Homo sapiens: one gene and its partners. The protein of the gene in region 3 interacts with the protein of the main gene of each other region in a pairwise test. Each region holds a gene or a part of one and is shown on either strand. Other genes may lie near its edges. The genes, in order: DNAJB6, alpha-crystallin A2 chain and CD209.

Evidence for each region.
Region 1: the proteins of CD209 (region 3) and DNAJB6 interact in binary tests that used the Homo sapiens proteins (3 or more experiments, as listed by UniProt).
Region 2: the proteins of CD209 (region 3) and alpha-crystallin A2 chain interact in binary tests that used the Homo sapiens proteins (3 or more experiments, as listed by UniProt).

Annotation. Positions count from the first base shown.
Region 1 is NC_000007.14:157,339,994-157,343,741, reverse strand, and holds part of DNAJB6 (dnaJ homolog subfamily B member 6), read right to left. Parts: intron 1-3,748. UniProt on the Homo sapiens protein: Has a stimulatory effect on the ATPase activity of HSP70 in a dose-dependent and time-dependent manner and hence acts as a co-chaperone of HSP70. Plays an indispensable role in the organization of KRT8/KRT18 filaments.
Region 2 is NC_000021.9:6,502,137-6,505,884, reverse strand, and holds part of alpha-crystallin A2 chain, read right to left. Parts: intron 1-3,748. UniProt on the Homo sapiens protein: Contributes to the transparency and refractive index of the lens. In its oxidized form (absence of intramolecular disulfide bond), acts as a chaperone, preventing aggregation of various proteins under a wide range of stress conditions.
Region 3 is NC_000019.10:7,740,935-7,744,682, reverse strand, and holds part of CD209 (CD209 antigen), read left to right. Parts: intron 1-463; coding exon 464-576; intron 577-1,442; coding exon 1,443-1,644; 3' UTR 1,645-3,748.

The DNA of each region.
Region 1 (3,748 bases), on a different chromosome or scaffold from region 3:
GTGGGTAGCTCATGCGTATAATCCCAGCACTTTGGGAGGCCATGGCAGGTGGATCACCTGGGGTCAGGAGTTTGAGAACAGCATGGCCAACGTGGTGAAACCCCGTCTCTACTAAAAATACAAAACCCAGTCAGACGTGGTGGCGCCTGTAGTTCCAGGTGAGGCAGGAGAACTGCTTGAACCCGGGAGAGTTTGCAGTGAGCTGAGATCACACCACAGCACTCCAGCCGGGGCAACAGAGCAAGACTCCATCTCAAAAAAAAATAGTGGTTTCTAAATTCATCTGAGGCCAGGTGAGGTGGCTCACGCCTGTAATCCCAGCACTTTGGAGGGCCGAGGCACGCAGATCACCTGAGGTGTTCAAGACCAGCCCGGCCAACATGGCAAACCCCTTTCTCTACTAAAAATACAAAAATTAGCCAGGCATGGTGGTGAGCGCCTGTAGTCCCAGCTACTCGGCAGCCTGAGGCAGGAGAATTGCTTGAACCTGGGAGGTGCAGGCGCAGTGAGCCAAGATAGTGCCACTGCACTCCTGCCTGAGCAACAGAGCAAGACTCTGTCTTAAAAAAAAAAAAAAAATTACCTGGGTGTGGTGGTGCACATCTGTAATCCCAGCTACTCAGAAAGAAGGCTGAAGCACAAGAATTGCTTGAGCCTGGGAGGCAAAGGTTGCAGTGAGCCAAGATCACGCCGCTGCACTCCAGCCTAAGTGACAGAGTGAGACTTGGTCTCAAACAACAAAAAAAAAAAGCAAAAACAAAAAAAGTACAGACAGGTAGGAAAAAAAAAAACCCACAGCAGTGAATTTTCATTCCTTATCACACACATCACCTACTTATTTCATTATCCAGTATGTCCTAAAATATTTCTGAAACAAACACAGAAGTTATTTCCCCATTACTCAAGATCAGAGACCATTTCTTCAACTAGCACTCATCACCTATTAGATACTTCCAAGCTTAACTCCCTTTCATTAAAAAATCATAATAGGCCAGGCTTGGTGGCTCACACCTGTAATCCCAGCACTTTGGAAGGTCGAGGAAGGTGGATTGAGGTCACAAGTTCAAGACCAGCCTGGCCAACATGGTGAAACCCTATCTCTACTAAAAATATAGAAGTTAGGCCAGCACGCTGGCTCACGCCTGTAATCCCAACACTTTGGGAGGCCAAGGCAGGCGGATGACCTGAGGTCAGGAGTTGGACAGGGCAAAACCCTGTCTCTACTAAAAATACAAAATTAGCTGGGTGTCGTGGTGCATGCCTGTAATCCCATGTACTCGGGAGGCTGAGGCAGGAGAATCGCTTGAACCTGGGAGGCAGAGGTTGCAGTGAGCTGAGATTGCACCACTGCACTCCAGCCTGGGCAACAAGAGTGAAACTCAAAAAAAAAAAAAAAAAAAAAAAAAAATTAGCCAGGATAGTGGCACGTGCCTGTAATCCCAGCTACTCCGGAGCCTGAGGTAGGAGAATCACTTGACACTAGGAGGCGGAGGCTGGGGTGAGCTGAGATCACGCCACTGCACTCCAGTCTGGGTGACAGAGTGAGACCCTGTCTCAAAAAAAATTATTATTATAATAAAATAGGGCCAGGCTCGGTGCTTCACACCTGTAATCCCAGCACTTTGGGAGGCCAAAGCAGGTGGATCACCTGCTTCCAAACCAGTCTGGCCAACATGGCAAAACCCACTCTCTACTAAATATACAACAATTAGCCAGGTGTAGTGGCGAACGCCTGTAATCTCAGCTACCAGGGAGGCTGAGGCAGGAGAATCGCTTGAACCCCAGAGGTGGAGGTTGCGGTGAGCCAAGATCGCGACACTGCACTCCAGCCTGGGTGACAGTGTGAGACTCTAAAATAAACAAAGCAACACTCGGTTAAGTACTCAGTCTCCAGTGCTGCTGAAACTTATTTTTTCCAACTTTCTTGAATTCTGGATTCCATTATTAATCACAGGAAGGTCATCAGGACATACACAAACTAGAAAGAATCTAATTCAATCAATACTTTCTAAGCACTCTGTGTCCTGGACATTCCTATAAACACAAATAACTTCAGATTCAAAGCCCACCCAAGTGGTACATGCCATCTCAAGGTGGCAGAGAGGAATAAGTATTAGTACACAGTTCATAAGCATACCAACTAGAGCACACACGTATATATGCACAACACAAATATAAAACACACTTTTAATTTAAGCCTTTGGTGGCAAAAGGTAAGTAGAAAAATATCAAAGGGGGAAAAATCATATGTAGTGTAAACTAAATCACCCTTCCAAAGACACGTAATTTTGCAACACAGCTTAAGAATTCTAAAATATGGCCTGGCGCAGTGGCTCACACCTGTGATCCCACCACTTTGGGAGGCCGAGGCGGGTGGATCACGAGGTCAAGAGTTCAAGACCAGCCTGGCCAAGATGGTGAAACCCCCGTCTCTACTAAAAATACAAAAATCAGTCGGGAGCAGTGGCAGGTGCCTGTAATCACAGCTACTCGGGAGGCTGAGGCAGGAGAATCGCTTGAACCCGTGCGGCAGAGGTTGCAGTGAGCCGAGATGGCGCCACTGCATCCAGCCTGGGCAATATGAGATTCCATCTCAACAACAACAAAAAAATCTAAAATCTGGCCAGGCACCTGGCTCACACTTGTAATTCTAGCACTTTGACAGGCCGGGATGAAAGACTCACTTGAGGCCAGGAGTTCGAGACCAGCCTGGGCACACAGGGTGATTCCACCTGCGCGCGCGCACACACACACACACACACACACACACACACACAGCCAGGTGCGGTGGGTCACGCCTGTAATCCCAGCACTTTGGGAGGCGGAGGCAGGGGATCACCTGAGGTCAGGTGTTCGAGACCAGCCTGACCAACATGGTGAAACCGTCTCTACTAAAAATACAAAAATTAGCCAGGCGTGGTGACACGCGCCTGTCATCCCAGCTACCTGGCAGGCTGAAGCAGGAGAATGGCTTGAACCCAGGAGTGCAGTGAGCCAAGACCGCGCCACTGCACTCCAGCCTGGGACACAGAGCAAGGACTCCATCTCAAGTAAATCAGTCAGTCAACTAATCATCAATCAATATTCCTTCTCAAGTAGGATATCTCCAGGAACATGAAACAGGTCAACAGTGATTTATGTCCATACAAAAACATAAAGGGTTTTGTTTGACAAAACACCTCATTAATATCAATACAAAAAAAAAAATCACATTTTTACTAGTTGACTTTTCTGCAGGTAGGCGTTGTCGTTTTTCCATTCCTACATCATCGTTTCTAACATATTCTTGTTTTCACCAACTTTGCTCTTCTTCTCATTAACCTCATTTTTTTGAGTTTGATATTCTCAAATTCTATTCATCCTTGAACTACACCATTTGCTAAATCCTGCCACTGATCCTACTCTTACTCGCTAATGAGCCTGCAGTTACCCGCCTCTCACCACCAGGTGGGGTCCTGCACAAATTTAACCAAACCACATTTTGAACAGAATCATTTCTGAGGAAATGAAAAAGTTTTAAAAAGGTTTCCAAAAAACGCTGTTAATCCAGTGTGTAACCTCGATGCAAATAAATACTAAGAAGTAAAAATCCCGTCAAAACGTCAACTCACAAATACAAAGGCTAATTACATTCTCTTATTCCTCAACAGATATCTGTAAGCATTAACCAATATAGAAGCTGACCTTTACAGCAGACGACAGTAAGGTGTCTGTGCGGTCCCGCGGTGACACCCAGTCCACAGCGACA
Region 2 (3,748 bases), on a different chromosome or scaffold from region 3:
CTGGCCAACATGGTGAAACTTTGTCTCTACTAAAAATACAAAATTAGCCAGGTGTGGTGGTGCATGCATGTAATCCCAGCTACTTGGGAGGCTGAGGCAGGAGGACCGCTTGAACCTGGCAGGCCGAAGTTGCAGTGAGCCGAGATCAGGCCATCCCTTACACTCCAGCCTGGGCAATGAGAGCGAAACTCCATCTCAAAAAAAAAAACGAAATGGACATTTTCAAGTTACTCACAAAACCAGTGAGACTTAACCAAGGTAAATTAGCCAGGTGTGGTGGCATGCACCTGTCATCCCAGCTACTCGGGAGGCTAAGGCAGGAGAATTGCTTCAACCCAGGAGACAGAGGTTGCAGTGAGCCAAGATCGCACCACTGCACTCCAGCTTGGGTGACACAGCGAGACTCCATCTCAAAAACAAAGATTTAACCAAGGTAATGGCATAACGAAGGTCATGACTTAACCAAGGCTGAACCAAGCATCTCCAAAGAAATGCAAAGCAGTCTTCCTAAGCGTCAGAACCACTCTAAAGACAGCTCAGAAAAAGAAATCTTGCTGCTCACACCTGTAATCCCAGCACTTTGGGAAGCTGAGGTGGGTGGATCACTTGACGTCAGGAGTTCGAGACCAGCCTGGCCAACATGGTGAAACCCCATCTCTACTAAAAACACAAAAATTAGCCAGGCGTGGTGGTGAGCACCTGTAATCCCACCTACTTGGGAGGCTGAGGCAGAAGAATTGACTGAACCTGAGAGGTGGAGGTTGCAGTGAGCTTAGACCATGCCATTGCACTCCAGCCTGGGTGACGAGAGCGAAACTCCATCTCAAAAAAAAAAAAAAAAAAAAAAGAAGGCCAGGCGCGGTGGCTCACACCTGTAATCCCAGCACTTTGGGAGGCCGAGGCAGGCAGATCACCTGAGGTCAGGAGTTCAAGACCAGCCTGGCCAACATGGTGAAACCCTGTCTGTACTAAAAATACAAAAAATTAGCTGGGCGTGGTGGTGGGCACCTATAATCCCAGCTACTCGGGAGGCTGAGGCAGGAGAACTGCTGGAACCTGGAAGGCGGAGGCTGCACTGAGCCGAGATCATGCCACTGCACTCCAGCATGGGCAACACAGCAAGACTCCGTCTCAAAAAAAAAAAAAAAAAACAGGACTGGAAATTGAACCCAGGCTGCAAACATAGCCTCATGTTTGTAGAGACTCATAGCCTCTGGCCCACAGGCTGGAGCACTGACAAACCCTGCAGGGGCTCCAGAGCAGGCAGTTTGAGCATTTAAAGGGTTTTGACTTGTTTCAGATCTGATCTCAGCTGAACTAATTCCCTGGATGTTAGCATTTTATTTTTTTAATTTCCCTCCCTCCTTCCCTCCCTTCCTTTCTCTTTTTCTTTTTCTTTTTGGCAGCATCTCGCTCTGTCGCCCAGGCTGGAGTGCAGTGGCACCATCTCAGCTTACTGCAACCTCCACCTACTGGGTTCAAGCGATTCTCCTGCCTCAGCCTCCCGAGTAGCTGGGAATACAGGTACATGCCACCACATGTGTTTTTAGTAGAGATGGGGTTTCACCATGTTGGCCAGACTGGTCTTGAACTCCTGACCTCATGTGATCCACCAGCCTTGGCCTCCCAAAGTGTTGGGATTACAGGCTTGAGCTAACATTTCTTTTCTGGCCTATTTCTTTTATTTTTTATTTTTTATTTTTGTTGTTGTTGTTGTTTTGGGTTTTTTTGAGACGCAGTTTCCTTCTTGTCGCCCAGGCTGGAGTGCGATAGCGCCGTCTCGGCTCACTGCGACCTCTGCCTCCCGGATTCAAGTGATTCTCCTGCCTCAGTCTCCCAAGTAGCTGGGATTACAGGAGCCCGCAGCCACTCCCCGCTAATCTTTTTTTATTTTTAGTAGAGACGGGTTTTCACCCTGTTGGCCAGGCTGGTCTCGAACTCCTGACCTCAGGTGATCTGCCCAATTTGGCCTCCCAAAGTGCTGGGATTACAGGTGTGAGCCACCGCACCCAGTCTGTTCCAAATTTAAATATACTTTCCCCTTTTTGAGAGAAGGAAATGTGTGCATTGTGGAATTCCAAAAACACTGCTTAAGAGATGTATGGGAGCTGAGGGAACAGGCAGAAAGAGATGAGTTTAGATCATCCCAGAGGCAGAAGGAGAAGCAGCAGCTGGAAACAAACAGGAGAAAGCCTCCATGGTCTTTTTGTTTGTTTGTTTTTGTTTTTGTTTTGAGACAGAGTCTCACTCTGTCACCCAGGCTGGAGTACAGTGGCGCCATCTTGGCTCACTGCAACCTCCGCTTCCTGGGTTTCATGTGATTCTCTGCCTCAGCCTCCCAAGTAGCTGGGATTACAGGCGCCCGCCACCATGCCCGGCTAATTTTTGTATTTTTAATAGAGATGAGGTTTCACCATCTTGGCCAGGCTGGTCTTGAACTCCTGACCTCGTGATCCACCCACCTTGGCCTCCCAAAGTGCTGGGATTACAGGTGTGAGCCACCTCACCCAGCCTGAAACTACTTCTAAATTTTAAAAAGAACTGTGGATGGCTGGGCGTGGTGGCTCACACCTGTAATCCCAGCACTTTGGGAGGCCAAGGCTGGTGGATCACCTGAGATCAGAAGTTCGAGACCAGCCTGGCCTACATGGTGAAACCCTGTCTCTACTAAAAACACAAAACATTAGCCAGGCATGGTGGTGGGTGTCTGTAATCCCAGCTACTGGGAGGCTGAGGCAGAAGAATCGCTTGAACCCGGGAGGGGGAGGTTGCAACAAGCTGAGATCGTGCCACTGCACTCTAGCCTGGGCAACAAGAATGAAACTCTGTCTCAAAAAAAAAAAAAAAAAAATTGCGAGGCAAGGTGGGGGATGCCTGTAATCCCAGCTCAGAAGAATCGTTTGAACCTGGGAGGCAGAGGTTGCAGTGAGCCAAGATCACGCCAATGCACTCCAGCCTGGGTAACAGAGCAAGACTCTGTCTCAAAACAAACAAACAAAAGAAATAGTTTCAGATAATCTTCTGTTTTCTTCTTGCAAAGAAATGACTTCATCAGAACTTCTTTTAGAAGCTTCTAAGTATCATTGAAAAATAGCTCTCTCAGTTTTTAAATTTTAGATGCAGATTTTTCCTATTGAGTGCATAAACTAGTTACTTTAAAGGCGCCCCATTTTAGCTATTATAGTCTGGGGTCTTCACGGGTTAAGTGAGACCATGTTTCTAGATACTGACAGAAGGTGGCACCATAAGCATTGTCCACGAATCCAGCTGCCGTCTCTGCAGATGCATGTCTGCTCTAGAAGCACAAGTGTCCATAATTTAGATTTTCCTTCTGAATGACCAAAAATGCCTAAGGGGAGGAATTTTGGTCACTAAAGAAGAAAATGGCCAAGCGCGGTGACTCACGCCTGTAATCCCAGCACTTTGGAAGGCCGAGGCAGGGGGATCACGAGGTCAGGAGTTCAAGATCAGCTTGGCCAAGATGGTGAAACCCCAACTCTACTAAAAATACAAAAAATTAGCAGGGCATGGTGGCAGGCGCCTCTAATCCCAGCTACTTAGAAGGCTGAGGCAGAGAACTGCCTGAACTGAGGAGGCAGAGGTTGCAGTGAGCCGAGATCATGCCACTGCACTCCAGCCTGGGCGACAGAGCGAGACTCTGTCTCAAAAAAAAAAAAAAAAAAAAAAAAAGAAGAAGAAGAAGAATGTTTAGATTTGTCAGTTGAACCAAGTTTCAGAATATGGCCAG
Region 3 (3,748 bases):
TCTGGAGGAAGAAGTCCTGATGGGTCGTGTTTGCCAGTTTCCCTGGTGTAAATATTCCCATGGTGGCTGATTTCAAGCTGTCGTTGTGATGTCACTCAGTGCAGAGCTGAAAGGAGATGTGCATGACCAGCAGTTAGGAAATGGTTGCCTCTGGCTCCAACACATTAAGCCCAGTTATGAGTAAATGTGCATGGACATGCACAGAACATGTGAAATGGATAAACATGCAGTATTAGCAAGAGGGTGTGAGGAGAGGCCAGCTGTGCATGGATGTGTGCATGTCAGGACACATGTGCCGTGGGATACACATGTGAGAGGGACTCAGACACGAGGGGGCTCAGGACCTAGTATACCAGAAGGCTGTAGGTTAGCCTACAAGCAGAACTTCCTACCAAGAGATGGGGAGACAGAGCCTGGAAAATGGGAAGCAGAGCTCCCTCCTGACTCCTCCTGTACCCTCCAGAACTTCCTACAGCTGCAGTCTTCCAGAAGTAACCGCTTCACCTGGATGGGACTTTCAGATCTAAATCAGGAAGGCACGTGGCAATGGGTGGACGGCTCACCTCTGTTGCCCAGGTAGATCTCAGAAGGGGCACCCTATCCACTGGGGCTGGAATTGTGAAACTCTGATTTGAACTTTCCCTGGGGATCCTCCCCAACTCCCTGACACCCTAGACCCAAGAATCTGGAGGTTTTACTGAGTTGAGGAAGGTGGTCTTCATACCCACTTCCAGACAGCATGGCAGGTGCCTAGAATTCCACCAGCAGAGCTGCAGGAGGAGCCTGCCACCGGGGAGGTGTATTAAAATATAATGTATTAATAGGAAGTCTGAGGTCCAGTAAGGCCACCAGCTCAGGAGACACCTGCCATTGTGAATAGCTTCTCATATACACAGATCCCTAGAGAGAGGACACATCACAGCTGGGGGCCACCTGGGGAAGCACCAGGGTCTGTTATGAGTCAGAGTGGTGGGGAGGGGGGACTGTGGGCCAGAGCCTTTATTATGGTTTCTGTGGAAAGGAAAGGTCAAGGCCAGGTGAACAGGCTTAGGATTGGGAAGTGTGAAGCATTTTTTGGGCTCTGGGGCACAGGGGCTGCCCCTCGCTGTCTGACACCTGGCCTTGGGGTGATTAGTACAGGATAGTGGCTTGGAGTACAAGAGCCCAGTAAGGCAGGTCGCTGGAGGTGTGGACTCCAGACTGGTTGGCTTGTATTTGAAAATCACACACTCAATAGGTGGAGTCCACCCAAGGACAGGTTGTGAGAAGAGAGGCAGGAACTCAAGGCATCGTGAGTCAGGCATATTATCAGGTATGCAGAGGGATTCAAGTCCAGCATACACACGCAGGGCAGATGTTAAGGCATCAAGATGACAGAAGGTAGAAACACAGCTCATGTAGCTGGCGGGGACAGAGGCTCACATTCCGCATGGGCTTTGCAGCTTCAAGCAGTATTGGAACAGAGGAGAGCCCAACAACGTTGGGGAGGAAGACTGCGCGGAATTTAGTGGCAATGGCTGGAACGACGACAAATGTAATCTTGCCAAATTCTGGATCTGCAAAAAGTCCGCAGCCTCCTGCTCCAGGGATGAAGAACAGTTTCTTTCTCCAGCCCCTGCCACCCCAAACCCCCCTCCTGCGTAGCAGAACTTCACCCCCTTTTAAGCTACAGTTCCTTCTCTCCATCCTTCGACCTTCACAAAATCTCTGGGACTGTTCTTTGTCAGATTCTTCCTCCTTTAGAAGGCTGGGTCCCATTCTGTCCTTCTTGTCATGCCTCCAATTTCCCCTGGTGTAGAGCTTGTTTTTCTGGCCCATCCTTGGAGCTTTATGAGTGAGCTGGTGTGGGATGCCTTTGGGGGTGGACTTGTGTTCCAAGAATCCACTCTCTCTTCCTTTTGGAGATTAGGATATTTGGGTTGCCATGTGTAGCTGCTATGTCCCCTGGGGCGTTATCTTATACATGCAAACCTACCATCTGTTCAACTTCCACCTACCACCTCCTGCACCCCTTTGATCGGGGACTTACTGGTTGCAAGAGCTCATTTTGCAGGCTGGAAGCACCAGGGAATTAATTCCCCCAGTCAACCAATGGCACCCAGAGAGGGCATGGAGGCTCCACGCAACCCCTTCCACCCCCACATCTTCCTTTGTCTTATACATGGCTTCCATTTGGCTGTTTCTAAGTTGTATTCTTTATTTTATTATTATTATTACTATTTTTCGAGATGGAGTTTCACTCTTGTCGCTCAGGCTGGAGTGCCATGGCGCGATCTTGGCTCACTGCAACCTCTGCCTCCCGGGTTCAAGTGATTCTCCTGCCTCAGCCTCACGAGTAGCTGGAATTACAGGCAGGCGCCACCAGACCCGGCTAATTTTTTGTATTTTTAGTACAGATGGGGTTTCTCCGTGTTGGTCAGGCTGGTCTTGAACTCCCGACCTCAGATGATCTGCCCGCCTCGGCCTCCCAAAATTGCTGGGATTACAGGTGTGAGCCACCGCGCCTGGCCTATTATTTTTTGTAAGAATAAAACAGGTTTATTGGGATTTGGGACTCTGAACAGTTCTGTCTCTACTACCTGATCTCCTCCTACCACGACTTTGGGATCTAGAGGAGCTTTGGCTCCGGCTGTGACGGCTCCGGCCGTTCTCACTGCGGCTGCACCGGCCCCCGCTGCGGTCACTATTTCTTCCTCTGCTAGGTGAATTGTGCCTCTCCTGGCTCTTTGACATGTGCTAGTGAGATTTCTTCCTTTTCCTTTCGGATTCCCCATTTCTTTTGTAGGAATGGTCTGGACTAGGGTTCTCCTTCCCCGCAGCCTGTAGTATTCATCGTGGTGGCCCACCCTCTCTCTCCCCTTGGAGCTCTTGCCAAAGGAGGAGACAAGCAGAGGTCTCTATTGGATTTCTCAACACCTGAAGAAAGTTGCAGTGTTTTCCTCTTGGACATTGTTGTATTTCAAATAAACCACAAATCATCATTTTCCACCGAGCCACTGGGCAGAATTCACACTGAAGCTGTCGTCCTGCGTACATACCATCGTCCGTTAAACAGAGAAAGAGCTGCTTGGCATTCTTCTTCCGACTGGTACTGAACATATATACTTGCCCCTCAGGTGAGGTTCCAAGTTGCAACTGACCTTGAACTGAATCACTCTCCCCACGTTATTTTTTAATTACTATTTTTTTTTAAAGATGGGGTCTTGCTCTGTCGCCAGGCTGGAGTGCAGTGGCGCGATCTAGGCTCACTGCAACTTCCGCCTCCCGGGTTCAAGCGATTCTCCTGCCTCAGCCTCCCGAGTAGCTGGGACTCCACTAAAAGTACAAAAATTAGCTGGGCGTGCACCACTGCGCCCAGCTAATTCTTGTATTTTTGGTAGAGACGGGGTTTCAACATGTTGACCAGGATGGTCTCGATCTCTTGACCTCGTGATTCGCCCGCCGCGTCCTCCCAAAGTGCTGGGATTACAGGCCTGAGCCACCGCGCCCAGTCTCTCCCCACGTTCTTGAACTCGGGCAGCACATCCTCACAGAAATCTAGGAACTGTTGGTAGGTTTCTTCCTCGCTGTACTCCAGGCTTGCTTCGGAGTCATAGTCATCCCTCCTGCACTGCTCCTTTCCAAACACTGTAAACATGCTTTTAATAAGAAGGGTAGGACTGGATGTTGGGAAATCATGTGAACATCTATCTCCAAATCTGCAAGCTCCTGTTTTACTGTAGAAGGGACAATTAACTCCATCCTTCTC